Linked DNA regions of Homo sapiens. The protein of the gene in region 3 interacts with the protein of the main gene of each other region in a pairwise test. Each region holds a gene or a part of one and is shown on either strand. Other genes may lie near its edges. The genes, in order: SEC22A, PMP22, OPRM1 and VAPA.

Region 1 (7,026 bases), on a different chromosome or scaffold from region 3:
CCACAGTAGCTGGGACTATGTCACGCCTGGCTAATTTTTTAGTTTTTTGTAGAGACAGGGTCTCCCCATGTTGCCCATGCTGATCTCAAACTCCTGGGCTCAAGTGATCTGCCTGCCTCGGCCTCTCAAAGTGCTGAGATTACAGGTGTGAGCCACTGTGCTTGGCCTAAAACCTCAAGTTAAATAATTAAAGTGGGCCAGGTGCAGTGGCTCATGTCTGTAATCCCAGTACTTTGGGAGGCCAAGCAGGAGGATCACTTGAGCCCAGGTGTTTGAGGTCAACCTAGGCAACATGGTGAGACCTCATCCCTACTAAAAATAAAAAAATTAGCTGGGTGTGGTGGTGTGCACCTGTAGTCCCAGCTACTCAAGAGGCTGAAGTGGGAGGATCACTTGAGTCCAAGAGGTTGAGGCTCAGTGAGCTGTCATCATGCCACTGCATTCCAGCCTAGGTAACAGAGCAAGCCCCAGTGTCTTAAAAAAATGATCAAAATGGAGCTTCATTATCTTTCTCTTCTGCCTCACACCTCATAAACAGTCTGTTCCAAAGATCTCATTTCTGGCAATGACACCAACATTCTGTCCAATTCCAAGGCTTCAGTCATCTTTGCCCCTTCCTTCTTTTCATCTCTGGTATTCCATCCTATCCAGCTTGGTCACTTCTTTTGAAGTGATCCAACTTCAAAGTGATCCCCAATCAAACTATTTCTCATTATCATTCTAGTTCTTTTGGTGTTCTAATTTTCATTTGCACGTTTATTTTCTTACTTCAGGCCCTAATAAGTTGGCCTCTCTGCCTTATCTCTCTCCTCTTGGACTGTCCACTCACCCTAAGTTCCACTGTCTCAGGATTGTTTTTATCAAGTCACTTCCCTTGAACCTGCAGCACAGCTTCCTATAACATATTACATCAAAGTCACGTCCTTCAATCTGAACTTTCAGGGCGATCCAGGATCTGGCCCCACAATGATTATCACGCATGTCTCACAACTATCCATAAATCACCATCCACTGACCCAGGATAAGCATGTTAATACACCTACCATGCTAAGTCACATTCTTTGCTTATTCTGCCTCTCCTCCGTACACCTGGAATGCCCTCCTCCCTGCCTTAGCCAACTCTTATTAATTCTTCAGGACATGGCTCATGTCTCATCTCAACAACGAAGCCCTCTGCTTATTATATCCTATATGGACTGTGTTTTTACCTTATTTCCTTCTGTATGCATAATCAATATCCAGCTTGATATCAGACATTAATTGTTCTCTAATTGTTTCACGTCTAAGCTTTCCAAGGTGGTCTCATCCATTCCCATGGTTTTAATCACAAACTGTAAGCTGACTTCCAAATCTAAATGTCTATACTTGTCCTCTTCACTAAGCTTCAGACTCATATATCCAGCTGCTTACCTAGCAGTGCCCCTTGGATGTCTAATGGGCATCTCAGATTTAACATGTCCAAACAGAACTCTTACTTTTTACCAAGGAGACGCACTTATCCTCTCCTTTCTTGCTCATTTCAGCTACATTATTCATCCAGTTCCTCAGGCCAAAAAACTACAGGTGATTATTCTTCTTTTACCTTCACATCCTATTTCAATCCAGTAGGAAGATTTGCTGGTATTAATCCCAAAATATAGCCCCAATCTAACTACTTCTATTCATTACTACCCTAGCTCGTTACAATCAGCACCTCCACCTGAACTTCTCTGAGTCTTCCATCTGACCTCTCTGCTTCCACTTCCTCCTTTATTCTTCACAGTGCAGGCAGAATGATCTACTCTAAGCCAAATGAAATCATGTAACTCTATAGCTTAAAACTACCCAATGGCTTCCTACTGCATTAGACTAAACAGACTAATAGACTCCAAACTCACTACATAACTTGCCCCATTCCTACCTTTCTGGCCTCACTTTCTGCAACTCTATTAATTGTCCATAATTCTTCAGGATCACTGGTTTTCTTTCTGTCTCTTGGCATGTAAAAAAGGGCTTCTCCACTGGCTGCTACCTCTGCCTTGCTCTTCATCCACAGCATCCTTCATATAATTACCTCCTCTCTCATCTTTTAGGTCTCTGCTCAAATGTCACCCTCTCAGAGAGTGTCTTGACCACAATAAATAGTCACTCTCTATCCCATTGCCCAGTTTTACTTGATTTGTATGTGACTCAGTGATAAGTGCTACCCCCTCCCACTAGACGTAAGTTGCTTCAGTTCTTTGAGGGCAGATATCAGGTAAAAAATTTTTATTTCCAATTATAGTTTGCTTACTACAACCCTAGGTATGTAAGAATGCAAATAAATATTTAGTGATCAACTTAAAAGAGGGATATCTATGATCTGCACAACTATAAAATTTCCCAGAGCCAGATACAAAGAAACTACAAAAAGGCTGCTGCTGACATGATGACTATTTAGTATAAGTTCAGAACAATATGATGCTCGACTTGAACAGGTTTTCCTAATCACTCCTTTCTATTGCAACCACTTAAACTTCATTAAAATGACAACTACTGGGCAAATGAGTCAAATGAAGCAAACTGAAGTCTTACTTAATGTTATAATGTCCAGTTTTCAGTGTACATCTATCAGGAAGTTGAGCAAGTTTCCTCGAAAGCATTTTAAAATACTTTCTGCACTCCTGCATTCCTGTGCTTTGTTCATAATCAGTAGAAGCAGAAAGTGGCAGTCCATCTCTGACACGAATGACTGAGGCAGATAAAATCATAGACATTTCAACCAACAGAGAAGACCTAAAACAAAATGAACAATTTGGGTTACATAAAAATTAAAGCCAAACTTGATAAGCATATGTAAAAATGTTCAACTTACTAGTAATATAAGAATAGTAATTAAAATGGCCAGGTGTGGTGGCTCACACCTGTAATCCCAGCACTTTGGGTGGCTGAGGAGGGTGGATCACAAGATCAGGAGTTTGAGACCAGCCTGGCCAACATGATGAAACCCCTTCTCTACTAAAAATACAAAAATTAGCCAGGCGTGGTGGTGCACACCTGTAATCCCAGCTACTCAGGAGGCCGAGGCAGGAGAATTGCTTGAACCCGGGAGGCAGAGGTTGCAGTGAGCCGAAATCGCGTCACTGAGCTCCAGCCTGGGCGACAGAGTGAGACTCCGTCTCAGGAGGAAAAAAAAAACAAAAAACTAATTAAAACAACATACTATGCTTCACTTAACATATAGCTTTTGTTTTTTGTTTTTTGTTTTTTTTTTTGAGACAGCATCTTGCTCTGTCACCCAGGCTGGAGTGCAGTGGCGCCATCTTGGCTGACTGCAACATCCCCCATCCAGGGTTCAAGCAATTCTCATGCCTCAGCCTGGGTTCCCATGCCACAGCATAGGATGTGGCTGGGACTATAGGCGCCTGCCACAGTGCTGGGATTACAGGCATGAGCCACCACACCCAGCCACATTAGCTTTTTAAAAAATAATACTTCTGTCTGGCATTCTCATAAGTACAGATGGAAGTAAAAACTGGTACAAACAGTTCTCAAAATGATTTGGCAATTTCAACAAGAGTCTGAAGGCATACCTTTTAACCTCAATAAATTTAAATATATACCTGTCTTGAGAAAAATAATCAGAAATCCAGGCAAAATTTTAAACAGAAAGACATTCTTCCACTCAAATAACTGAAAGCAATCTAAATATCCTATAAAATGGTGATGGTTAAGTAAATTATAGTATATTCATATAACAGAATATAATGCAGCAACTAAAAGTTATGTTTGTGGAGAAAGTTTAATAATGTGGTAAAATGCTTACATGTTAAGGAGAAAAAAGTAGGATAAAAATTGCAAATGTTGTTTTACACAAACATAAGGATAAAGAGACGAAGATAAAGAGAAGGAAAAAGGGATTGAAAAACGGATGCAGAAAAAGATGCCAAATTAAGAATATGCTCACCTCTAAGAAATGGTATTATTGGTTATTATTATTTTATAATTTCCTAAATGTTCTCAATATTCACAGTAGACATATACTACTTTTATAATCAGAAAAAAATTATTTAAAATAAATCCTAAAGCTAAAGGAATATTGGTTTTAATGTTGTTCTCAATCTTTTTACCAGAAAGTAAATCTTAATGGCCTATTTTATTGGATTCTCTTCTTGCTTTACAAAAACAGATGAAAGGACTTCACAGGCCTGAGTCTGAAGGAACTCAGGTCAACAGTCACTCAACCTTTCATAAAATACACAGTGGCTCTCAAACTTTAGCTTGCATAAGAAGTTGAAAGTTTAGTTAAAAATGCAGATTTCTGAGCTCTGCCCTCAAAATTCTGAACCACTGACTGTGGGATAGGGCTTGACAATTTGCTTATTGTCTAAGGCCCATACTTTTTAAAACATTAAATTAAAACATGTTCACTATCTAAGATTAAGTGATAACTCTTCTCTGTCAGGCCATCAAAGCACAATGTCACTAAAGGCTTCCTCACTAGTGGTGAGGCAACTGGTGAAAATTCAAAAATCTGATAAAAATCTCACAGGCATTTTTCCAAAAATATTGTATCTTAGAGACTAAATTAATCCTTACCTGCCCACTTAATCTAGGTCAATATTATCTCATTCCAAAAAGGAAAAAATGAGTAATATATATAAAAAAAAATACCACAGAAAACCAGTTGTTACAAAGCTTGTAAATCAGGAGCTGATAGTTTTCACTGCTGTGTGAAGTCAAAATATGACTTCCCATTCATGGTGATAACTGATCTGACAATAAAAATTAACCCAACTAATAAATCTAATGCATTAAGTTCACTATCCCTTTTTCCTCTTTTCATGAGGAAAAAGGAGAAATCTCTAGGTGTTACTGTGTCATTACCCTTTAATATTTTTCTCCTTCAGAGACAGGGTCTCACTGTGTCACCCAGACGAGTGTAGTGGTGCGATCTCAGTTCACTGCAACCTCCACCTCCCAGATTCAAGCAATTCTCATGCCTCAGCCTCGCGAGTAGCTAGGATTACAGGCATGCGCCACAACACCCAGCTCATTTTTGTATTTTCAGTAGAGATGAGGTTTCGCCATGTTGGCCAGGCTGGTCTCAAACTCCTGGCCTGAAGTGATCTGTCCACCTCAGCCTCCCAAAGTACTAGGATTACAGGCATGAGCTACCACGCCCAGCCTCTCCATTCATTTAAAGAGAAAAATATCCAGAAGCAAATTAGTCTTTTTACTACAGTGGAGTCTTCAAACTGAAGTCCCAGTGTGACATATCCCAATTGGTGTTTTTTTCCATTCATCTAGTTTTTTTCTCTCCTAAAAGCAGTAGCATGAAAAAGTTGGGATCCCTGAAGAGATATCTATACTATAAACCCCTCTTTAATTTTTTTTTTACCATGTTTTACTTAATTATTAAATCACAATTGTAACATTTAGCCTAAGTGTAAGAAAGTAGGAAAATGTCTTACTCTATCCCCTTAAGCGTTTATTATTTAACTATAAAACTGTTGTCTTTCCAGAAGTACACTGCAACACAATAACCATTCTGGGAATTAATTTGAGGGTGAGTTGTAACTTGCAGTTCTAAATACCCACATTTTAGTATTTAAAAGCAGATTGGATGGGGTGCCATGGCTTATACCCATAATCCCAACACTGCTTGAGGCCAGGAGTTCAAGACCAACCTAGAAACATGGTGAGGCTCTGTCTCTATAAAAAAAATTAAAAATCAGCTGGGCATGGTGGCACACGCCTATAGTACTTGCTTTGGGGAGGCTGAAGCAGGCCCAGGAGTTCAAGGCAATGGTGAGCTATGATTGTGCCACTGCAGTCCAACCTGGGTGATGAGAGAGATCCTGTCTCAAAAAGTAAAATAAAAGTAGACTGTATTATTTTATGTCTGGCCTCTCTAGGATCCTAATAGAAATATTATGAATAGACTTCATTAATAGGTTGCCAAATTTCATGTAGTCTTCAAAGTTATTCTTTAGTGACTTGGAGGACAGATCAATAAATATATGATCCATGCTTTCTAAAACACATACTGTAAAAAGAATACAATTTGTAAGTTCCATTCGTTTACCAAACATTTACTGAATATCTAATGTGTCCCATGAATTATGCCAGATAGCAGGAATGAAGAGTCCTACCATCAAGAAACATCACTCCTCAATTAGAGAAACTCAGTTGAAAAGAGCAAACAATGCAGGTGTGTTGCCCACCACTTCACTAACTGGAAAACTAAAGTTGGACAAACTTACATTTCAAATACTCCTTTTTTTGTTGTTTTTTTGTTTTGTTTTGTTTTGTTTTGAAACAGGGTCTCACTCTGTTGCCCAGGCTGGAGTGCAATGGCTCACTGCAACCTCTGCCTCCCAGGTTCAAGCGATTCCCCTGCCTCATCCTGCCAAGTAGCTGGGATTACAGGTGCCCGCCACCATGCCTGGCTAATTTTTGTATTTTTAGTAGAGATGGGGCTTAACTGTGTTGGCCAGGCTGGTCTCAAATTCTGACCTCAAGTGATCCACCTGCGTCGGCCTCACAAAGTGCTGGGATTACAGGTGTGAGCCACTGCGCCCAGCCTCAAATTTTCCTAATATGTACTTTAGCCTTTAACCAAAAGCAGAACACAGTAGTTACATTCCCTGTCAAAATTATTACAAGGTTGTCAGAGAATGGTTTCTACTTATCCATAGATAAGATTTTTCTTAGGGAAAAAATTAAACCTCTTTCTACCACAGTAATTTGATTCAGCATCCAAAGCACTTGAATTTAAGCCTGACAAACGGGGATGAATGTCCAATGATCAACGTCAGGCTTAACTAATTTGTAGACAGATTCCAACCACCTTAGGCTAAGCTGTCTCTCCATCAATTCAATAAACATACCCCTACTTTTTTTCTTTTTACCACGGATTCATAATATAGTTTGTTTTTTTTTAAACTAATCTTATCTGGACTGTGCTAGCAGAAAAGGAAATCTGTCCATGTCAGGCCTAAGCTAGGTTAAAGTATCTTTAAGGTCTTAAGGAGGGTTGTGGTTGGGAAAATCCCAAGGAAGAAC
Region 2 (7,390 bases), on a different chromosome or scaffold from region 3:
CTGGCCAAAGCCCCGCGCCTGCGCTGCGCTTTCTGGCACCCTCACTGGAAGATGCCCACATTTCTCCTCCATCTCCTTCACTCTCCCCACCAAATCACTTACAGCCCAAAGGAACAGCTGTCCCGATCCTCAGGGTGGCCTCAAACACAAACTCGGGTGCGTTGGCTCCGCTGCTGGCGCCGCCAAAGCTGCGCTGCGGGGCTGCGCGCGCGCGAAGCAAGGGGGCAGTGGGAGGCTCCTGGCGTTCCCCTTTAACGGGAACAACGCCCTGTTTGCGTCGCTGCAGTAGGGTGTGTCCCTGGGTCAGCGTGTGCGGGAGGGCGGGACTCAGGGAGGAGAGGGGGCAGGAGAGAGGGAGGGCAGGAGACAGTCACTTGGCCTTAAATGCGCCTCAAGAAAAAGTCGGTCCCTGCAAAACCGCGGCGACTTTTACTCGAAACCAGAGGCGGCTGAGCTTTCTCACCTCCCACCTCCCTTCTCCCCTGGCCCCGTGGAGACCTAGTGTTGACCGAGAAACTGGCTCCTCAGCCCACTCTGGGAAGACCCAGCCAAATGTAGCTCAGCGGATGCCCAGGGCTGGGCTTCTGGGCCCGCCGACGCCGACCGCGCCCGCGCGGGGCTGAGGCTGGATTCCTTTCCCACTAATAGAGGGCAGCGGGCGCTTGAGCGCTGGAAGAAGTCCCTCTCCTCTCGGGTCCTGGAGCCCCTGCCCTGTCCTGGCGTCTTAGCCGGACACACCTGCCCCGCGCCGGTCCCCGCTATTACTGTCTGCACCTACGAAGCATGCCAGCTTCCTAGGATTGGCGGGGATTGATCTAGCGGGCTCCTCTTGGGTGCGAATTAGGGGAAGAAAAGTCCGGCCGACTACTGGATAGCATGGTCTGGGATTGGGCTCCTCCTAGCCTAGGCAAAACCAGACTACCACCGAATAAGCTCTAGGCAAAGTGTTCCTGCAGCAGTCGGGCTTGGCTGTCAGCCTTGGCTGGAGTCCTGGCCATGGGGTTTGGCGGGCGGGTGCGAGGTGGCCATTTGAGGTGGGGTTGGAGCAGCCAAGGAAATCAGCTGATTCATAGCCTCCTAACGTGGCCCGCCCAGCGTTACAGGGAGAGAGGCTAGCCCCCTTCAGTCTCGGCTTGGCAGAGGCGCGCCCAACTGAGACTCCCGTGCGCAGGCCAGCCTTGAGGCACGGGACAGGGAGCAGGAATGTGGATGTTAAAGGTTTCTGCCTGAAAATGCAGCAGTTCACGCACGCGCGCGCACACACACACACACACACACTTCCCTACCTCTAGTGTACTGTGTCATAGAAGCTCATCACTCTCAATGATTCAAATAATTCTATATTATTTTACGATTTGAAAGGAGCTGCTATTTTAGCTAATTGTATATTCTTACGGTAAGTAAAAATAAATTTGAAAAAGATCTTCAAACAATGATCTTTTTAAAACTATCGTGTTATCAGATTAAAATGAAGTGTACTTGTAAACACTGCATTTACAGTGCCCGTTATATGCCAAGCACTTTGCCTGGACTTTATATGCATGGTCTGTGAGAGGCAGTATGGTGCAGTGGTTAGGCACTCTGGCTCTGGGCTCCAACAAACCTAATCACCCTGCTTACTTTTGTTGTGAATTTGGGCAATTTCTCAAGTTCACTGAGCTTCAGTTTTCTCAGGTGCAAAAGGAAATAGTAATGCCTGCTTTAAAGGTTTATGGTGGTGATTGAAGGAGACAATATGTACAAAGCAGTTAACATCGTGTCTGCAACATAATAAGGGCCCAGTGCCCAAATTGCCACCACTATTATTATATCACATTTAACTCTCACATCAACCTTTCAGGGAAGACCTGACCACCTCTGCACTAAAGTAGCTTGTAACTCTGATAGGTAGGTAGGTAGGTAGGTAGATAGATAGATAGATAGATAGATATAGATAGATAGATAAAGATTTATAAATGAAAGTGCATATGCAAGTAGAAAAAAAAGTCTAAAGACATGGCAGTGTTTTCTTTCCTCCACAGGTCATTTTATAAGTTAGATTTGCTCTAGAAATTATTACTTTGTTTTATGCCATTTGGACATTTATTTATTTAACCAACACTTATGTGATCACAACATACTCAGGACTGTTCTAAGTAAGCACTTTAGAAATATGAGCATATCTAACTCAGGGTTTTCTTTCCCTTCCTTTGTGATTTTCAAATAAACTTTTTAATAAAGTCTAATACACATACAGAAAAGTGCATATATTGGGTGCTACAGCTCGCTTCTTCCTTTCTTTTGAACCCAATAGTTTAATCAATAACCACCCAGGTCACAGCCACACCATATACTGCCAGACAGGTAAACCCAACCCATCTGTCCCTCACTGCCTCTGGCCTCCTGCCTGGTTCTCAATGGTGGCAGAGGAAGTGCTACTCAGTGCCTGCTGACCAGGCTTGCCACACCCAGAGCCCGGCTGGCCAAGGCTCTGCCACAGGTGGCAGCTTCTCCCTAACCTGCTTACCAAGGCCACCTGCCAGCTGTGTGTGCACAGCTATTTTCCATGGGGGAAAAAGCATCTAGATTCCTTTCTTCCTTTCAATCTGGATGCATTAGGGTTTCTAGATGCTCTCAGATGGCCCCCCACCTCCCCAGCCAGAGTATATATCCACCTTTTAACCAAGGATATAAAAAGCCCTCTGAATCTCCAGTCAATTCCAACACAAATGCACCATCTCTCCTGCAATCCTTTTCATTTGCGGCTTGCAGGGGGTGGGAAATTAGGCAATTCTTGTAAAGCATAGGCACACATCACCCAGAGGCACAGTTTGCCAATAAAACTCACCCGGCCAAACAGCGTAACCCCTTCTTCCAAGCAGATTTCTTTGCAGCCAAATGCAAGGGATGTTAAGGCAAGACCCTCCCCACAGGGCAGTCAGAGACCCGCAGCCGACAGACTAAGCCTGCAGCTTCCAACCAGGCTCCCCGAGATGTTCCCTGGTGGTGCTCCCTGTAACTGAAGCCAGACCAGGCGTCTTTCCAGTTTATTCAGGGGCTGGTCCAATGCTGGGATATGTCATGGTGGCCTGAGAGGTTCTCAGCCTCTATTATTTAAAGAGACAGTGTCCAACTTTGTTTGCTTTCCAGAATACAATAATCCCAAGAGGCCCTGCAGGGCATGGAGAAACTGGAATCAGAAGGGAGAAGAGCTTTGAGTATGCCTGAAGCCTGTGATGCCAAGACTGTTCTCTCTGGAAGTGCCAACCTGTGTAATAGCCAAGAGGTCCCACTGGCTCCCCTCCCCTCCCAGTGAATTCTGCAGAGATTAAATATACTGTGGGAAGGATCTGTGTCTACAGTGTTACATACGTGCAGGTAAGTTTTATTTTAAATAAACTTCCTTTTAAGGAGCCCAAACATTGCACAGCTAATCTCTCACAGCATCACAGCAGTGAGCCAAATGTCTCAAGAGTCACCAAATCAAGCCTCCTTTGTTCCAACCCCTGGTTGGAAGGACTCCCTGTTACCTGCCTTGTCTGCCTAGACCCCATCGCAAATGATCACATGTGTTGTACATTAGAATAAAACTTAGGGAAATGTGTTCTTCCGACTCTGTCTTTAATGTGCCCGAATCAAGCTGACCTTCATGAGATAATTCAATGCAAGTAAACGAACCTCTATTGAAAACTATTGAAAACTTTCTAACCTGTCAGGCAGAATAGGCTGGAAGAGCAATTGGAAATTCTTGGAGAGGGAAGTAAAGGAAGTTATGGCATATTTAGGTTCTTTGCAGCGTACCACTCCAGCTCCCAGAGAGTCCTCCATCCCTTGAACCGCTTCTAGCTGCAAACTCTGACACAAGAGGACTGGTTTCATTGCATGAGTTTCCTGGAATTCTGGCACTTGGGGCATAAGACTTCCTCTTGTGTTAGGGATCCCCAGTCTGGAGAGACCTGCAGAATTTGGAGGAGTCCCTCCCTGTCACACACTTTACGTTTGATTGGACTCTCCAGTCACAAGGGCCTCTCAATGGCCCTCTCCCCTGTTCTGCCCACAGCCAGCATCTGCTCACAGCCAGCATCACAGCCAGTGCCAATAAAATAGTTTCACCTTTCTCTCTTTGCTGAAATCATTTTTATTTTTCACAGCAGTGGTTCTTTAGAATCACTCAAGAGCTTTGCAAATGACCTAGCCTGGGCCATGGTCAGAGAAGCTGACTCAGGTGTTTTGGGATGGGGCTCAGGTATGGGTAATTTCCAGTGTCTTTCTCCCCGCTGGATGTTTCGTTGTCCAGCCAGGTTGTCATGTGGAGTTAGATTGTCGCTGATTTCCTTCCAGCTCCCTTCTGTTGTGGAACCCAAATGGAGATGAGGTACAGTGTGGGCTGCTGCAGTATTATGCAAGTTATAAGTCTGTTCTGCCAGGCAAAACGGTGTGTGTGTGTGCGCGTGTATCTGTGTGTGTGTGTGTGCGCGTGTGCGTGTGTGTGACAGAGAGAGAGAGAGAGGAGCCTCCCTCAGTCCTCCTCTGACATGGTCTGTACGGGGACTGGGAACAGTGAGCATGGTTTTTGCAGCCTCTCCAGACAGTCTTTTCCTGGGTACTGCCATGATCAGCTCCAAAGGCTACACGACAGAGGCTGCTGTCCGTCAGGCCAGGATCAAGCCTGAAGACACGTAAGATTATTTCTGATCTAAGAGCTAAAGATTCAGAGGAAAAGGGGTAGGGCCTGGTGAGTGTGGGGCATGGCTTCTGGCCAGATAGGAGCAGTCTGATTAGCCCTCCCTCTCTCCTTCCATGAGCTCCACATTCTGAGACCTGCTCTCTTGGCCTCACGTCTCTTTTGCCCAGGTCCTCCATCTCCAGCAGCCAAACCCCGAAGTCCCTGTTGGCTGTCAGCAGTAGAGCTGTTCACTGTTGTGTGCCACTGGCCCTGTCTACCAGATGCCAACACACTTGTCTTTACCCATCTGGGCCAGACTCTCTTCCCTTCCCAGAGTCAGGTGAGGAAAACTCCTTCCTCGTCTCCCATTTCCAATAACCTTTTCTCAGCCAAATGGGACCCCTATCCCATGCATCTGTGTTGAGCAATGTCTCTGCAAAGCTGTAGGCTATATCCCACTGAGCCTCTTGCAAAATAAACACATAGAATAGTCACCAAATAACATTTATTATTATTTGCTATCCTCCCTTCCATTTACAGATAGGAAAAATGAGAATCGGGATTCTCTGAGGAAACACAGTTGAGTCAATGAGACTGGCTATTTCTAGCACCTGAGCTGTTCTGCTACACCACGCTCCATCGGCTCAGTAGCATCAGTTATCCGCAAGTCCTTGATAATGATGATAATAGGTTATATTTACTTCGTGTTTAGCATATGCCAGGCACCATCTTGAATATTTTATATGCATCAAATCACTTAATCCTCACAACCGTATGAAATAGGCACCCCATCATCCTCTTTTAGAAGAGGGAGAAACTGAGGCACAGCGAGATGTTCAGTCACTTTCTCAAGACACACTGCAAAGAAATGACAGAGGCTGGATTCCAACCAGGCATTCTGGCTACAGATCCCGTACTCACAGCCTGGACTATCTCACATTCTACCGTGCCCCTAATTGTGCCCAGCACGTTCCTAGCATATCTTCTCATCATGCTTCCATAGACACTATCATTTAATGTCCTATTTGTATGAAAGATATTCTCACATTATACATATTTATGCATTCACGTTTCTTTTTCCATTAAAAAGCAAGAACATATCCTAAGACATCCATTTTTTTTTCAGCACCAGTCACATTTAGTACAGCTTTCAAGAATCCTGTCTCATCCTGCCAACAAGGCTGTGTGCTCCTCCGAGGACATTTGCATTCCATATGTCTGTATAGCATAAGCACTGGCAGAATCCTGCCTGTAGGTGAGATTTTAATTTCATAAGAATGAAATGTTGTCCATGACAGTGGAATCCCAGCAGACTCTTGAAGAGGGAGGAAACCCTTCCGCACTTTATAGCTAATAAAATGCTGTTAACATATGGCAGTATCTTATTTAAGAGGAATCATTATAATCATTTTCTATGTGAAGAAACTGAGGCTTGGAAAATTTACAGTGTTTCCTCCAGGGACTAGCTAGTGAATGCCAGGGCTGGGGCTTAAAAAAGTCCATTCCTCTGACTCCCAAACCTGTAATTTTTTCACTGTGCAGGCTCCCCAGAGAGAAAACCAGAGGCAAGTCTGAATTTGGTGTTTGTCCAGGTGATGAAGTTGTTGTTGCAGCATCTATCCCACCAGGTGCTCAGTCAATATCTGAAAAGTGTTTACACTAAGAATGAAGTCTTTCCTGTGTCCTCATAGCCAGCAGCCTGTGTGGGAGTTCTTGGCCAGCCCTGGACACAGCTGGCCTGGAAGGGTCCTCAAAAGTCAGTCCTGCCTCATCTAGACTCAGCTAGACTGTTTTGATGTCGAGTGAGAGCAGCTTGTTGAAAGAACAAGCAAGGCAGGGAAAGAAGGCAGAGGGGAAGGAAGGAAGGAAGGAAGGAAAGAGGGAGGGAGGGAGGAAGGAAGGAAGGAAGGAAAGATGGAAGGAGAGAGGGAGGGAGGGAGATATAGATAGGAAGAGGGGAGGGAAGAGAAGGAGAAGGGAGAAGAAAAGGAACAGAAGGAGCCAGTTTGACTTCTGTGACAGAATCTTCTACAAATAAGCAAGTTTGAAATTATGACAGGTCCCAATCCCTAGAAGATATTCTTTATGAACAACACAGACGCAGTCAGAAAGCAACATAAAGACACACACAAAAAAAAACTCACATTGGCACAGGACTGTTCCCTAAATGACATCTTTAAAATATAGAAAGGTATCTTGGAGTAAATTGTATATTAACTCCTTCACCTGTGGGAGAGAGAAGTCACAGAATTATTATGTTGTGGCAGTGGGACCAGACCAAGTACAAAGGATTCTCTGTTCACAAATGCATTGTTGCTTAGGAAAGCCAGATTCCACAGATGCAAGTGGAGGGGGGAAAGCAGTCTTTTCTCTGACATCTCATGAGTTAGCAGCTAGAGGATTGGGGAGCAATTTAAGCAAGAGTCAGAAATGGATGTGTACTTGGGATTGCAAACTCTAAAACTTTTCTAAGACTGTTTACTCCTAAGTGAAAATGCTTCTGCTCCAGTAGGGCATAGGTTCAAATAAAATGGGGAAGCAGAGCAATCTTGCCACACGGGAATGGACGGAATGGGGAGGAATGCAGGGATTTTCTAGGCCACTGCAGACCAGGCATAGAAATGTCGAGAAAAGCAGCCTTGGCTTGATGTGAGAGATTGTCCTTATTGAGAGAGGTGCACAGGAAGGCCCATGTAACCCAAGGAAATGCCTGCTTCAGGCAGTCGAAGCCACACCAAGAAATGG
Region 3 (7,026 bases):
GTCTGGAACGTAGTTTCTGGGATTGTAACCAAGGCTTTAATGATGACGTAAATGTGAATGGGAGTCCAGCAGACGATGAACACAGCCACCACCACCAGCACCATCCTGGTGATCCTTCGAAGATTCCTGTCCTTTTCTTTGGAGCCAGAGAGCATGCGGACACTCTTGAGGCGCAAGATCATCAGTCCATAGCACACGGTAATGATGAGCACTGGCATAATGAAGGCGAAGATGAAAACACAGATCTTCAGCAGGTTTTCCCAGTACCAGGTTGGATGAGAGAATGTTAGTGTACAATCTATGGAACCTAGAAGAAAGGAATTTAAAGGAAAAATTAGCAGCAACATTTAATTATGTCATAAGGTGTTAATACTGCCATTTTGCTCATTCATTTTTAGCCTTGACCAGAGCTAACTTAAGGCTATAAAGAAATTGTGGAAGAAACTCAGTTGTTTGTTACTTTTCAAAGAAAGTTTTACTTCTAATGTTTTTTGTTTTTTTCTAAATTTCCCATTTTGCAGTCCACTTCGATCACATTAAGCTTTCGTTCAGGGAACAAAAATGAACCTCTCAACATGAGCTAGATCCTCCATGAGGTCTATATTGATATAAAAAATGTAATAATTGTCCAAAGTCTCTAGGCGGCTCCAGGTAATGGATGTTTTCACTTCATTTTTTGATGGATTGTTCAATATTCTGATATTAGGTGTAGAAAGATACATTTGCCATGTAGTCAGCCACTTGATAATTTTAAACAAGCCTCAGTGTAATACTCTTTGGGTTTAAGCTCCAATTACTCTTGGGAGAGCTATGTACTAATTTACACACCATTTTTATGAAGTAAATACAGAGAAATCAGAAATAAATAGATTACATTCTCTTTAAAGGATTTAATAGGCCTAAAATTATGAGGAAAATTCCTATTTTTAAGTATTCAAAGGCTTTTTTTGCTAGGAAGAATAATTAAAATTACAATGTGACTAAGACAATGGGGCACTCCATAAATACTGCTTTGCTTATGACATCACCAACATATCAGGCTGTGAACCCTCCTTCCCTCAGGCTGGTAACATCACTCACCTTGCCTGTATTTTGTTGTAGCCATGAACATTACAGGAAGACCAATGGCTGAAGAGAGGATCCAGTTGCAGACATTGATAATTTTGGCATTTCGGGGAGTACGGAAATCTAAGGCCTTGACAGGGTGGCAGACTGCAATGTATCGATCAACACTCATGGTGCAGAGGGTGAATATGCTGGTGAACATGTTATAGTAATCTATGGAGATCACTATCTTGCAAAGGATGGTTCCAAATGGCCATGTTCCCATTAGGTAATTCACACTCTGGAAGGGCAGGGTACTGGTGGCTAAGGCATCTGCCAGAGCAAGGTTGAAAATGTAGATGTTGGTGGCAGTCTTCATCTTGGTGTATCTAGGAGATAAAGGAAGAAGAGTGAGAATCAGTAAAAGACACTAGTGTAAAATATAGGTAAGCTTCCAATAATAAATTTGCATGAATTAGTAGAAAGCTTTTTTGAGATTAGATATAGAATTGTTTTCCAGTATCAGCTTGGCTATTTACAATGATGTCAATGATGTACCTATTGGCTAAATAGCTGCAATAATAGCAACGATGCTGCTTTGTTGAGTTTCTTCCTTTTTTTTTTTTTTTGGATAGGATCTTGCCCTGTTACCCAGGCTGGAGTGTAATGGTATGAACAGAGCTCACTACAGCTTTAACCTCCTGGACTCAAGAGATCCTCTTGCCTCACCTCCTGAATAACTGGGATCCCAGGTGCATGCCACCATACCCTGTTAATTTTAAAAAACTTTTGTAGGGACAGGGTCTTGACATGTTGCTTAGGGTGGTCTTGAACTCTTGGGCTCAAGCAGTCCTCCCTCCTCGGCCTCCCAAAGTGTTTGTGTTACAGGCATGAGACACCACACGCAGTGAGGGTTTTAATTTTTTTTTTTGTAATGTGTCAGTCATTGTGATAGGTCTAATAGAAAGAGGGAGATTCCAGTCAAATAGTAGGGGCAGCGACTGGATAGTAATTCTAAATATAAAAGAGAAAATTTTAGCTATATAAATATAGTTAAAATTATCAAGAAGTATAATTGTGCAAGTGTCTATAGGTATGTACACAAACACATGCACATACAAACACACAGGCGATTATGGGGCACAGAGATGAGGCATCTCACAGAGCATAAGGCAAAGGGAATAGTAGGAGTAAGATGTGGAAGGCATCCTGGAAGTGCAAGTTTAATCTCAAAGCACAAGCAGGATGATTGAGTTAGACACTTGGTAGGAGCAGGTCATTCTAGACAGAGAGGTAACAGAGAGAACCCCAACAAAGATGTAGAGTTGGAATGGCCTGATGTGTGTGTCAAGCACATTCTACCAGGGAATGGCAAGGGATCTGACTGGGGAAGAAGAGAGGCCAGTACATGAAGAACTTGTATGCCATGGTAAGATTAGACTCTATCCAATCCATGATGAGGAACCCAAGTGTGTTTGCTTTGTTTTTATTTTTTAATGCTTTATTGAGGTGGAATTGACCTATAATAAATAACGCATAATTAAAGTATACAATTTGATAAGCTTTGATACGTGTGTACACCTGTGAAACCACCACCATAATTAAGATCAGAGATTGGCAAACTATGGTGTGTAGACCCAATTGGACCGTTGCCTGTTTTATAAATAAATACACCTATTTAAAAACCCATAAGTGTTTTGATGCTACAATGGCAAAGTTCAATAATTGCAACAGAGATCAGATGACATGCAAAGCCTAAGTTATTTACTATCTTGCACTTTACAGAAAAAAATGTCAACCTCTGATGAAGATAATGACATCAATTGCTCCCAAAAGTGTCTTTGTGTAGCTCTTTAATCTTTCCTGTTTGCCCCTCCCTGTCCTCATATCCAACCCTCACTATTCCTCAGGCAATTGCTGATCTTGGTTTGCTTTCTGTTCTTATAGATTAGTTTGCATTTCCTAGAAGATGCAAATAGAATCATTCAGTATGTACTCTTTTTTTGTGCTGCTTCTTTCACTCAGTGTCATTATTTTGAGATTCATCTATGTGGTTGCATATAACAAGAATTAATTCCTTGTTATTGACAAGTAGTATTACTTATGCATTCATCTGTTTTTTTTTTTAATCCATTCACCTATTAATGGGAACTGAGTTGCATACAACTTTTGGATGTTACAAATGAACTGTTACGAACATTCATGTGCAAGTCTTTATATAAACATATGCTTTTCTTCCTCCTGGGTAAGTATCTAGGAGTGTTATATGTTTTCAAGGCCTGCAGAAATTAGAAATATGATAGTAGAATATAAGCAGGTACACTTGCAATAATACATTATATCTGATGGCAGAAGTATACCTTGTAAACATTGGACATCATTTTTTTTTTAACATTCCACATATATTTACCTTAATTTAGTAATAGTACCTCAGTTTCACTCTGGGAACCACTCATTTCCCGTTCTCAGTCCAGGTGCTTTGGGATAGGCTGTATTACCAGTCCAGGGCGTGAAGACGTTTAGTGACCGGGGCCATGGTGAATGGCAAGGATGCTCTCATGTTCCAACCAGAGCCAGTGAGAGTTTATTTTGAGACTTATGGACAAAGAGTGTATTAGTTTTCCTGCAGGACCCACACCTGAGAAGACGCATGGTATGTAGTTGCTGGAGGAGCTTGTCTGAAAATGGACCTAATCCGGAGGATGTGGATTTGAGAGCGTGAGAGAGAACCCCACACCTGAAGCCAGGCCCTCCTTGGGCTTCTGATTTACACGGTGCCATCAATTCCTTTTAAATGTTAGCTTGTGTTTACTGTTTTTCCGTCACACGAGGTTGAGTCTAACTCATTCAGCCCAAGACAGCTGTTGGTTGGAGGCCCTTTGTTTAGGACTGAATTCAGTGTCCAGGAAAGTGTTTTGGTTTCAATAACATCAGGAAAGTGATTTCATAAATCTCCTCAGGGTCAATAGGACAGCTTTGTTACTGAAGCTTTAAAATTCTGATACCTGATCTGGTCTGCAATACTTGCAGAAGCTGCATTACTGCCAGAAAAGCTCCACATTTTCAGACTTGGGGGCTTTTTTTTGGACTTACTTTGGGAGTTTCACTTTCTTAATGGATTTTAAAGAAAAAGATAGAGCCATTTAACTTGAGGAGAGAAAATAATTTGCTTTTAGTTTGGACTTTAAATATGGCAAATATAAAAAGGATAATGTAGACAAATACTCCAAAGTACAAAAACCAACAAAAAAGCAAAATTAAAACTGTGGTTTTAAGATTTAGAATAATTGACCTTGGTGCTCAAGAAGTTGAAACATTTTTTATTTTTTTAATAAGAAGAAGTTTCTCCCCAAAAGAGAAAATAACTTTTGCTAGATTCACCGTTGGTTATAGACCTGCATGATCTAAAGACATGCTTCATTGCATTTGCCACTTTCCTACCCAGCAGACCTTACATTTCGTGGCTTATCTTTAATGGTGTTTTATGTTAAGTAATTGGTTTCTTTACAGTCAGTTTTCTGACTCATCATACTTCCAACCTTTCCTTCAGGCTTATTTTAGCACTAAGTATTTCCAATGTATGTTTATTTTAATTAAAAAAAATCATTTCCTTCTCCAGAGTGAGGTGTTTGTGGAAAAAAAAATTATGTCAGGGTTCAACATGGTGAAAGGAAACGTGGTTATGCATAGTTAATTAGCATGCTAGCCATTCCACAATGTGTATACATTTCAAAACATCATGTTGTATATGGTAAATATACATAATTTTATCATCAATTTACCAAAAAAAAGTGAATATTTATCTATAAAAATTCTTTCAACGGGCATTTTATAGGAATGATGCTGTTTAATTTTTCTCAATTTATTTAAAAAGTCTTCCTCTAAAGATAGCCAGCATTCTTACCCCAGTTACTCATGCTTTGGATCACAGCAACATATAAAAGGGGGCTCAACGATCTTCTAAATATGTGAAAGAAAATTATACAAAGCTAAAGGATTAAGAATTCCAATTGCCTCCAGCATATACCCAAAGGCTTTAATCTGAAGAGATGGTCTAATCAGAAAAGGAGTAATGTGGGCTGGGCCTGGTGGCTCAAGCCTATAATCCCAGCACTTTGGGAGGCTGAGGTGAATGGATCACTTGAGGGCAGGGGAAGGAGACCAGCCTGGTCAACCCTGTCTCTACTAAAATTAGAAAAATTAGCTGGGGGTGGTGGCAGGCACCTGCAATCCCAGCTACTTGGGAGGCTGAGGCAGGAGAATCGTACCACTGCATTCCAGCCTGAGCAACAGAGAGAGACACTGTCTCAAAAAAAAAAAAAAAAAGGGCAAGCTTTCATTCTGTTCTGATGTGGTGGCATGAATGTTGTCCCAGCAAAGTTCAATGAATGCTCAGAGTCACATCATGGGCCTTGCACAGGAGCATAGGACTCAGAGTTAGCAAACTAGCAAAAGAAATGACCTGCAGGAAGAATTATCTTTGCCATTCAGTTTACCTGAGTGGGTCCGAGTAGAACTCCTGGCTATTAAAACACAAGCCTTTTTCCTTACTCCATGCCTACTGCTTTGTACTGTGCTGTGAATGTGTTCTGTGGCAAAATGGGCAAAGAGAGACTCATCTGGACTCACAGGCCATCCTGATATTGACCCTTCCTATGGTAGCCACTGAACTCCATCTTCTGCTCGAAGCAGTGGCCCAAGCTATTTCTTTCTAATTATCCCATTAAAATTTTTGTAGTAGGTATTTCTTTAACTTTGGTCTAGATGATTAAATAGCTCTTTTGTTTTATGAATTCAAATGAATTTACAATGCTATTCGTTTTTGAAAAAAATTGTGTTCTTCTGAGAACCATCGATGTTTGACCCATTAGAGTGATTTTTATGGAACTTCCAGAAGTGTTGGGGAAAAGGCATTGTGAGGCCCATTTGCTGGCAGCTCACCTATTCTTTTATGTTGCATATATGACTTTTGTTTATAGATGTTCTTCCTTTCTTATGGTTATAAAATAATTCTTATTTATCTTTTGACCTATTCTTCACACATTTCTCCAACTATTACTACTTACAAAATGTGATTGCTTTTGACCTATTTGTGTTAAGTGAAGCCAGACTAAATAAATTACCTCTGTACACCTGATGGGTTTTGTAAACTTCTGTTTAGTTTTGTGGTTAATTATTTGAATTGTGGTGATCGTGTCTCAGTTCAGAAATAAAACTGATCAAGAGAGTGAGAGGAGGAAGGACACATTTTAGAATCCAGCATGTGTGTGTGTGTGTGTGTGTGTGTGTGTGTGTGTTTAATTCCACATCATGGCCTTCATATTGCTCAACTACCTTTTTCATAAGTTCACAATAGAGTCAATGGTGATGGACGGAAGAGTTTCATCTCTTTTGGGGCTAATTTTTCTGCCTTTTCATTTTTTTTACCAAGTAGTGTGAAGAAAGATACCTAATTCAGTAAGAATTCAACAAGCCCCTTTTATATGTTCAGCAATGTGCTTGGAAAGATATATTTCTTGCATTTGCCATGACTTTTATGTCCACTTACCCTCACATAGAAATTAACCTTTTTAGTCGAGAAAAAAATCCTCCCTAGAGTGTCATACTTTAATACTCATATTTAATTGGATCAATCCAATGAGATAAAGATACTTTCCTACATTTCAAGTAATTATTTAGGCAAAGAATATGGTCAAATGAGTATCTACCTGAGTTAATTGATCCATTATTATCCATCTATTCCATTCTGATATCCCAGGTGCGTTTTTACTTGTGAGTGTGTGTGTGTGTGTCTGTCTGTCTGTTGGGGGGGGAGGTTCTAAAATAAGAAAAAGCATAATCAAAACTAGTGATTATCCTCTCATTGGCATTAACATGGAGAAAGACTATATATTAGGTTGCTATTTTGTATTATATTCTCCACTAGCTTAGTGAAGGGGAGAATGGAGGACTTCTCACTTTGCTATAAAATGTTGTGAAACA
Region 4 (6,953 bases), on a different chromosome or scaffold from region 3:
TAAATACTGAGGTATACAGAAAAATGTACTGAAATAGTTGGTGTCTGCTTTTGCAAAATTGTGCAACATACTGTTAATTCATCTTCAAGATGCTTGTTAGGTGTATAAAAGAAAAACCATCCAATCTCAGAATGATTACCTGAGTCACTCCTGGAGAAACCATCTCAAACTCAGAATCAATAACTAAAATAAACCTACTAGAAGATGACAAAGAATTTTGCAAAACTGTCTTCTAAAAGTCCTTCACTTAGAAAGTTTTGAATGACTTAGGGTAAGTCAGTTAAATGATTTTTTTCTATCATAAACTAAGCCCAAGTAGACTGTACATTCTAAATGAATCTCCTCAGTGTTGAACTGTGCATTTAAATACACAAAGGTTTCCATCAAAGCCAACAATTTACCTTTGACTAAAACGATAATATTAAGGAATCAAACACCAAATGTCACCTCCCAATCCTCCCCATCATCTCCATCTTTAAACTGAAACACACAACAAACTATTGGGCATTTAAGTACCAGGCATTCTCTCACAGCAGTGTGTTTACTCAACCACTCTCTTGGCCTAAACCTCCCCTGAAATGAAAAACAAGCCTTTTCCTTAAATGCTTCCTAAGGGAGGGATGGGGCACATAGAGAAAGGGCTTCTTTCCTCAGACACGGTTGTGTCTCTGTTATACCATCTACACACCTTTTCTGCTTCCCTGGCTAGTCTTATTTTTACTGGCAACACAAAAACAATGAGTTCTATAATCATAGCTGTAATTCTCCAACACCCCCAAAAAAGGAAATATATGAGTAAGTCACTGTGTAGGGCTTTTGCTTGTTTTTTAAACTTGCTTCTCCACTATTATTACTCCCTTACTATAGCAACATAACAACTTCCCTAAGGAGAAAACTTCAAACTCTGTGGACATTTCCTGGCCTAAAACTGGTTGTAAAGGCTTATAAATCCCTAATGGCAATTTACACATAGTTATCCAGTAGAGGAAATGTTCACTGTAAACACAGCCAATCAAAAGATAAAAACGAAATATTAAAAAAAAACACACCATACAGATTTACATTAAATTATCTCAAGATAATGGCTGAGTCAGGACTCTTCATAATTCCTCAAAGGTTTTCCCCCAGCTACAACTACGTAAAAATCACACAACTTACATAAACTTGCAATAAAATACATTCACTGCACCTTAAAACCAAATCCTTACCCAACAAGTAGCTCACTTACACTTCTATTCAAAGAAATTTGTAAACGCACTAAAAAGCTTGCAATGTAGTTATGCAATATTAATCTCATAATTCCAGAATATATTTTAAATTCCTAAACCTGAAGTTTTTCCTATGGAAAACAATGTAGTTGGCTTTCTCTTGGACTCAGCCTTACACAACAATAAAGGATTTAATTTTTTCTTTTAGCACTAGAATTGCTATACACCTCACAAAAATTGTTCTCATTCAACAATTGAAATACAAGACATAGACTTCCAAAACGGGACTCACTTTACACTTAACTAAAGATAGGAAGGAACCTACTTTCTATTAGATGTTCACACTCTTTCAGTATTCCTTAAAAACAAAGAAAAAAAATAAAAATCTGTACATTTTAACTCTCTTTCCTAAAGTACACTACATATTGACAAGGAAACCGACCAAAAGCCCCTGGGATTCTTCCAGGATCACCAAGTCAGACTAAAAAACTTATCACAGGCAGTACTACAAAAACCTACAAAGTTCCAGAGCTGGGTGACACCTTATCAGCCTTCTCAGGATCTGTCGGAAACCGCAAACGTAAAAGCAAAAAAGTCACACGCACTGAAGGTTTCTCAGCAGAGGAGCTCAACTAAAGGGCTAAATAAAAGCACGCGGGTGGCACACTGAAATGTCGTAGAAGGCAGGAAGCCCCGCTACTATGAACCTACAACTCTCCGTTTGCGGCTGACGCATCGCTCCTGCCCGCACGCACCTGGGTCCGTGCCAACAGCACCGGGCAGCCCTCGCCAGGCACCTCCAAGGACTCTCCACCTCCCCGGCGCGTCCTACACCTGACGGCCGAGTTCTAAACCTGGCGGAAAGGTGACAAGCGACGCCCTCCGCGGAACCCGAGGGCCGGCTGCAGCGAGCTCTCCCCGGGCCGGGGCAGGGGTCGGGGGGCGGCTCTCACTCCCAAGGGGTCCCGCGCCGTGCCCTAGCCTCCCCGCGCCGCTGACAGCCGGGAGCGGGCGACAGACGCAGCTTGCGCCACCTCCAGAGCCCACTCCCCGCCGCAGCCCAGAGCGCACGCCCTCGGGTGCCCAGCCGCCCACGCCCCGCCGAAGCACGCCGTCGGCCTCTGGGGCCAAGGACGCGGGCCCAGGCGGACCGCGGCGCGGGCGGGACCGGACGCCCAGGAGGCGCCCCCGCGGGACCGCAAGATGGCGGCGGCGGCGGCGCCAGGGCCGGGCTCCCCTCCGCCTCGCCCCGGCCGGCGCGCGCACCGCAGCGAGGGCGGGCGGGAGGGGATGAAGCGGGCCGGAGCAAGGGGCAGGCCGGCCGAGGTGGCGGCAAGAAAGCAGCCGGGAAAGGGAAGGCGCCGGGGCGTGGGGGAGGGGGCGCTCCCTCGGGCCAGGGCCGCGGACGTGCCCTCCGCGCCCCCCCGCCGACAGCCAGCGGTCCGCGCGCCCCACCCCACCCGGGGGTGTCCCCGTTCTGCCTACCTTTGAATTTGAGGTCTGTGGGCGGATCGAGGACCAGGATCTGCTCGTGCTTCGCCATGGCCCCTGAGGCGGACGCCATCGGAGAGACAGCGCAGAGCGGGGGCGCGCCCGCGGCGGCGGTTTGCTGACTGGGGGCGGGGGACGACGGCGGCGACGGCTCGGCCGAGCTCTAGGACGAGGCCAGGCTCGCGGCTCCCGAGCCCTAACGCCTGCCGCTGTGTCACCGGTTCGGTGGGCCACCCGCTGGGTCAGCAGCTCCGGGTCCCACAACTGACTCAACCCCACACCAGCCGCCACGGCCACGCGCACTTGCGAGCCTCGGCGACCCACGTGACGGCCTCTGCGTGCCTACGTGCGCGCCCCCGGCCGGGAGCTTCTAGCGCTTGTCCCGCCCTCCAGGCCGGCCTAGCGCGGCGCGGGGCTGCTGCGCCTGCGCGCTCGCGGCTTGCCGCGGCCCGGAGCGCAGCCCAGCTGTCAAGGGAACGGGTGTGGAAGGAGGCGGGGCAAAGGTCCGCGGGACCGACGCGATGCGCAGCGCAGGGCTGGAAGCGCAGTCCTCTGTCACCTTGAGCTCCGAGTACGGAACTAGAGAAACTGCTCTGGCAGCGCATCACACTCTTCCAAGTGGGAATGCCCAGTGGAAGGGACAAGTAGTAGTAGGGAAGCGCCCACTCACTACAACTCCCGGCATGCCCCCTGCGGGGCGGGGCCTTCGCCGAGGGCCTGGCCCTTTGCGGCCCTGCGCGGTGCTTGCTGGGAACTGTAGTAACGGCTGTTTGAGGGTGGAAAGGAGAGCTAGGTCTGTTGGAGGCAATGGGGTGGGGTTCGCGGACGCTAATTTTGGCTCTCAGAGCGCGTCTAGTTTGCGCTAAAAAAGAAAAAACTTGAAGACTGAAACGAGGCCCCAATGTTAGAAATATATTAATAAAATCTGCCCTGTGGAGAACAGGCGTGGGGGGATGTGTCCGTTTGCTCTAATTCTATCCAGTCCTCTGTTGGCAGGGCTGCATTCCCCGTGGTATCCAATTCAGCCTCTCCTGCTTCCTGAGTTCTCTCCAGTGATGCAAAATCAGATAAGGAAACACACCTCGTCTAGGAAGCAAGGGGAAATATGACAAAGCACACAGAAACTAGAAATAAAAGTCAAAAATCTACACCATCGAACCCAAATAATCTTCTTCAGTTTTAATGATGGACCCAAACCAAAACAGTTCTCACGTTCACATGTTAGAAACTAACTCCATCTGCATCACTTACGATAGGCTGTAGTAAACTGAACCAAATAAGAAAAATCCCAGCAGCAAACTTGCTGACAAAACTTTAGCCGATTGCCAGGGTAGTCCGGTACAGGAACGTCAAATGAAACCAATGTGCTGTAAATAAACCTTTATTGTATTTTGTGATACGGTTTGAATTTAAATCCCTAGGTAGCGCCACGAAACAAAAGACATATTGATGCTACTGCCATGGAGCAGCACAGTTTGTCTAGAAAATAAACGAGACGAAACAGCAGTCTAGAAGTAGGCACCAAATCCAAGTTTTCATGTGCGATCCAGGTATTAGGGTCCATCCAGGAACAGCCTGCTGGAATTGCTAGCCTGGCATTCACAGAAGATTGTGCCACCCACGAGGAATGTGTTTTCAGCCCTGAAATTCCTGGGAGTGAGAGGTGAAGCCAGCTGGATTTCTGGGTTGGGTGGGGACTTGGAGAACTTTTCTTACAAGAGGATTGTAAAATGCACCAATCAGCACTCTGTAGCTAGCTAGAGTTTTGTAAAATGCACCAATCAGTGCTCTGTAAAAACGCACCTATCAGCACTCTGTAGGTAGCTAGAGGTTTGTAAAATGGACCAATCAGCACTCTGTAAAATGGACCAATCAGCAGGGCATGGGCAGGGACAAATAAGCCAATAAAAACTGGCCACCCCAGCCTGCAGGGGCAGCCTGCTTGGGTCCTTTTCCACATTGTGGAAGCTTTGTTCTTTTGCTCTTCACAATAAATCTTGCTGCTGCTCAGTCTTTGGGTTTGTGCCATCATTTCTTTCTTTCTTTTTTTTTTTTTTTTTTTTTGAGAGGGAGTCTCGCTCTGTCCCCCAGGCTAGAGTGCAGTGGCGTGATCTCAGCTCACTGCAAGCTCCGCCTCCCAGGTTCACGCCATTCTCCTGCCTCAGCCACCTGAGTAGCTGGGACTACAGGCGCCTGTCTCCATGCCCAGCTAATTTTTTTATATTTTTAGTAGAGGTGGGGTTTCACCGTGTTAACCAGGATGGTCTCGATCTCCTGACCTCATGATTCACCCGCCTTGGCCTCCCAAAGTGCTGGGATTACAGGACTGACCTAGTGATCCACCCGCCTTGGCCTCCCAAAGTGTTGGGATTACAGGCATGAGCCACCACGCCTGGCCTGGGTTTGTGCCATCTTTAAGAGCTGTAACATTCACCGTGAAGGTCCGGGGCTTCATTTTTGAAGTCAGCAAGACCAGGAACCCACTGGAAGGAATCAACTCCGGATGCAGGAGGATAGAGTGCTTAAGTAGTTTGAAGCATATTCTAAATTTACCTTTACTGTGATTTCTTCCTATTCACAAAATTTATTTTGAGATGTCAATTATCATTAAGGTAGAATACAAAAAAAATTGTTTATTAAAATGGGGGTTCAAGTTTTGTTTTTGTTTAAGAAAAAAAAAAAGCTAAAAGTGACAATCAGTCCAAAGGATAGTGTCCCACATAGGTTTAGTTGTGAATTGACAACCCTAAAGGCCCTCACAAACTCCAGTTTTTTGCCGGCCTAAGAACTCTCTTCCATGGGCCAGCTAGCCTAGGCTGATCCAGTCCCTCCATAGCAGGAAGCACACTTCTCTTACCGGAAACCATTTGGGAAGCCCCCATGTGCAAATAGTCAACTAGCAGAATAGCATGCGGAGGAAATTCCCAGTAACTCCCCTATGGGAGGATGAATGATCGCCCATTCACTATAGATTTAATGGGAAGCCTGAATTGGATGTATTCTAGTTTCCCAGTCTATATTATTAAGAAATCTCTGCCCATTTGAGTCATCTGTCGTTGGAATCAACTGTTTTTTCACTTCTCAATATTGCTTCAAAAATCATGTAGGTATAGTCTTAAAACATATAAGAATTTAAAATTCTAATATTCTAAGAATATGTGAAACATCTTGGGATTAATCCCCTATTCGTATTTTAGAGCATTAGATTAATAATCACTGAGTCATTTTGAATCTTCTACTTCACATCGAATTGTGCACTATTTAAGTGGTTTGTGCTTTGGTATTTATTAGTACTTTTCTTCCAGCACTACAAACTTTACAAACATCATCACACCCTACTCAGAACAACTTCATGACAGTTGGCAAGTGCCGCTTTTGTTGTTAAATGTGGAAATGAAAACACAGATGACAGCATCTCATCTTAGTAATAGAGCTCAGCTATGGGCAGGGGACATTGCCCAATGTTCTATTCTGTGCATTTTTGCTCTTCCCAAAGCCGCAATAAAATGACAACCCACAATTTAAAATGTCATTGACTTCTCTATTGTTTAACATTTAAGCTAGGAATAATGAACCATGTGACCTATGTTCATTTTGTTTGCTCTTTTTAGATTGGCTAATGCAGCACAGAAAGGCCTTAAAGTATTAGCAAATATATACACTCCAGCATATCAAGCAACCAAATTTTCATGAGTCTAAGAAGTACAAAGGCTTTGAATATTATTTCAACCTATTTGAATCACTAATAGTATTCACCTTTGGACAAGTTCTCTCTTATGGACTTGGCAAAGATTTTTTTTTGTTTTCAGTACGGATAGTATCAAAGTACTTATACCCCTCTACTTCTCCATAGTTAAACATGTTAAACTTTACAGTAGAGGTGCTCTATAATTATGAATTTGTTTATGAGCAATTCTCTGAGTTATTGACTTCAGTGAACATTTAAACAGGCATGCTTTCCATAAATATTGAGGCAGTAAAGTAAAATACAGGCTTTGAATCTAGACTGCTAGGTTCAAGTTCCATTTTCCACTGTGTGATCTTTGCAGCTCACTCCACCTCTCTGTGCCTGTTTTACATCTGTAAAATGAGAAGAAGAAGAATACCTACATTCTGGGTTTGTTACCAGGATTCAATGAGTTCCTACACATGAAGAGCTTATAATAGTGCCTGATTCCAGCACTGTTACCTTATTAATATTAAATGTTAAATTACTGCTGTGTGCCCAGCACTGTGGCAGGTACTGGTGATTAG

The links.
Region 1: the proteins of OPRM1 (region 3) and SEC22A interact in binary tests that used the Homo sapiens proteins (3 or more experiments, as listed by UniProt).
Region 2: the proteins of OPRM1 (region 3) and PMP22 interact in binary tests that used the Homo sapiens proteins (3 or more experiments, as listed by UniProt).
Region 4: the proteins of OPRM1 (region 3) and VAPA interact in binary tests that used the Homo sapiens proteins (3 or more experiments, as listed by UniProt).

Annotation. Positions count from the first base shown.
Region 1 is NC_000003.12:123,204,927-123,211,952, reverse strand, and holds part of SEC22A (vesicle-trafficking protein SEC22a), read right to left. Parts: intron 5,653-7,026; exon of another isoform or gene 4,846-5,652; intron 3,133-4,845; exon of another isoform or gene 3,016-3,132; intron 2,755-3,015; 5' UTR 2,736-2,754; coding exon 2,554-2,735; intron 1-2,553. UniProt on the Homo sapiens protein: May be involved in vesicle transport between the ER and the Golgi complex.
Region 2 is NC_000017.11:15,262,327-15,269,716, forward strand, and holds the start of PMP22 (peripheral myelin protein 22), read right to left. Parts: upstream 3,001-7,390; 5' UTR 2,828-3,000; intron 227-2,827; exon of another isoform or gene 99-226; intron 1-98. UniProt on the Homo sapiens protein: Might be involved in growth regulation, and in myelinization in the peripheral nervous system.
Region 3 is NC_000006.12:154,084,233-154,091,258, reverse strand, and holds part of OPRM1 (mu-type opioid receptor), read right to left. Parts: intron 4,753-7,026; exon of another isoform or gene 3,455-4,752; intron 1,498-3,454; exon of another isoform or gene 1,434-1,497; coding exon 1,081-1,433; intron 308-1,080; coding exon 1-307. UniProt on the Homo sapiens protein: Receptor for endogenous opioids such as beta-endorphin and endomorphin. Receptor for natural and synthetic opioids including morphine, heroin, DAMGO, fentanyl, etorphine, buprenorphin and methadone.
Region 4 is NC_000018.10:9,910,076-9,917,028, reverse strand, and holds the start of VAPA (vesicle-associated membrane protein-associated protein A), read right to left. Parts: upstream 3,014-6,953; 5' UTR 2,773-3,013; coding exon 2,694-2,772; intron 2,426-2,693; exon of another isoform or gene 1,964-2,425; intron 1-1,963. UniProt on the Homo sapiens protein: Endoplasmic reticulum (ER)-anchored protein that mediates the formation of contact sites between the ER and endosomes via interaction with FFAT motif-containing proteins such as STARD3 or WDR44.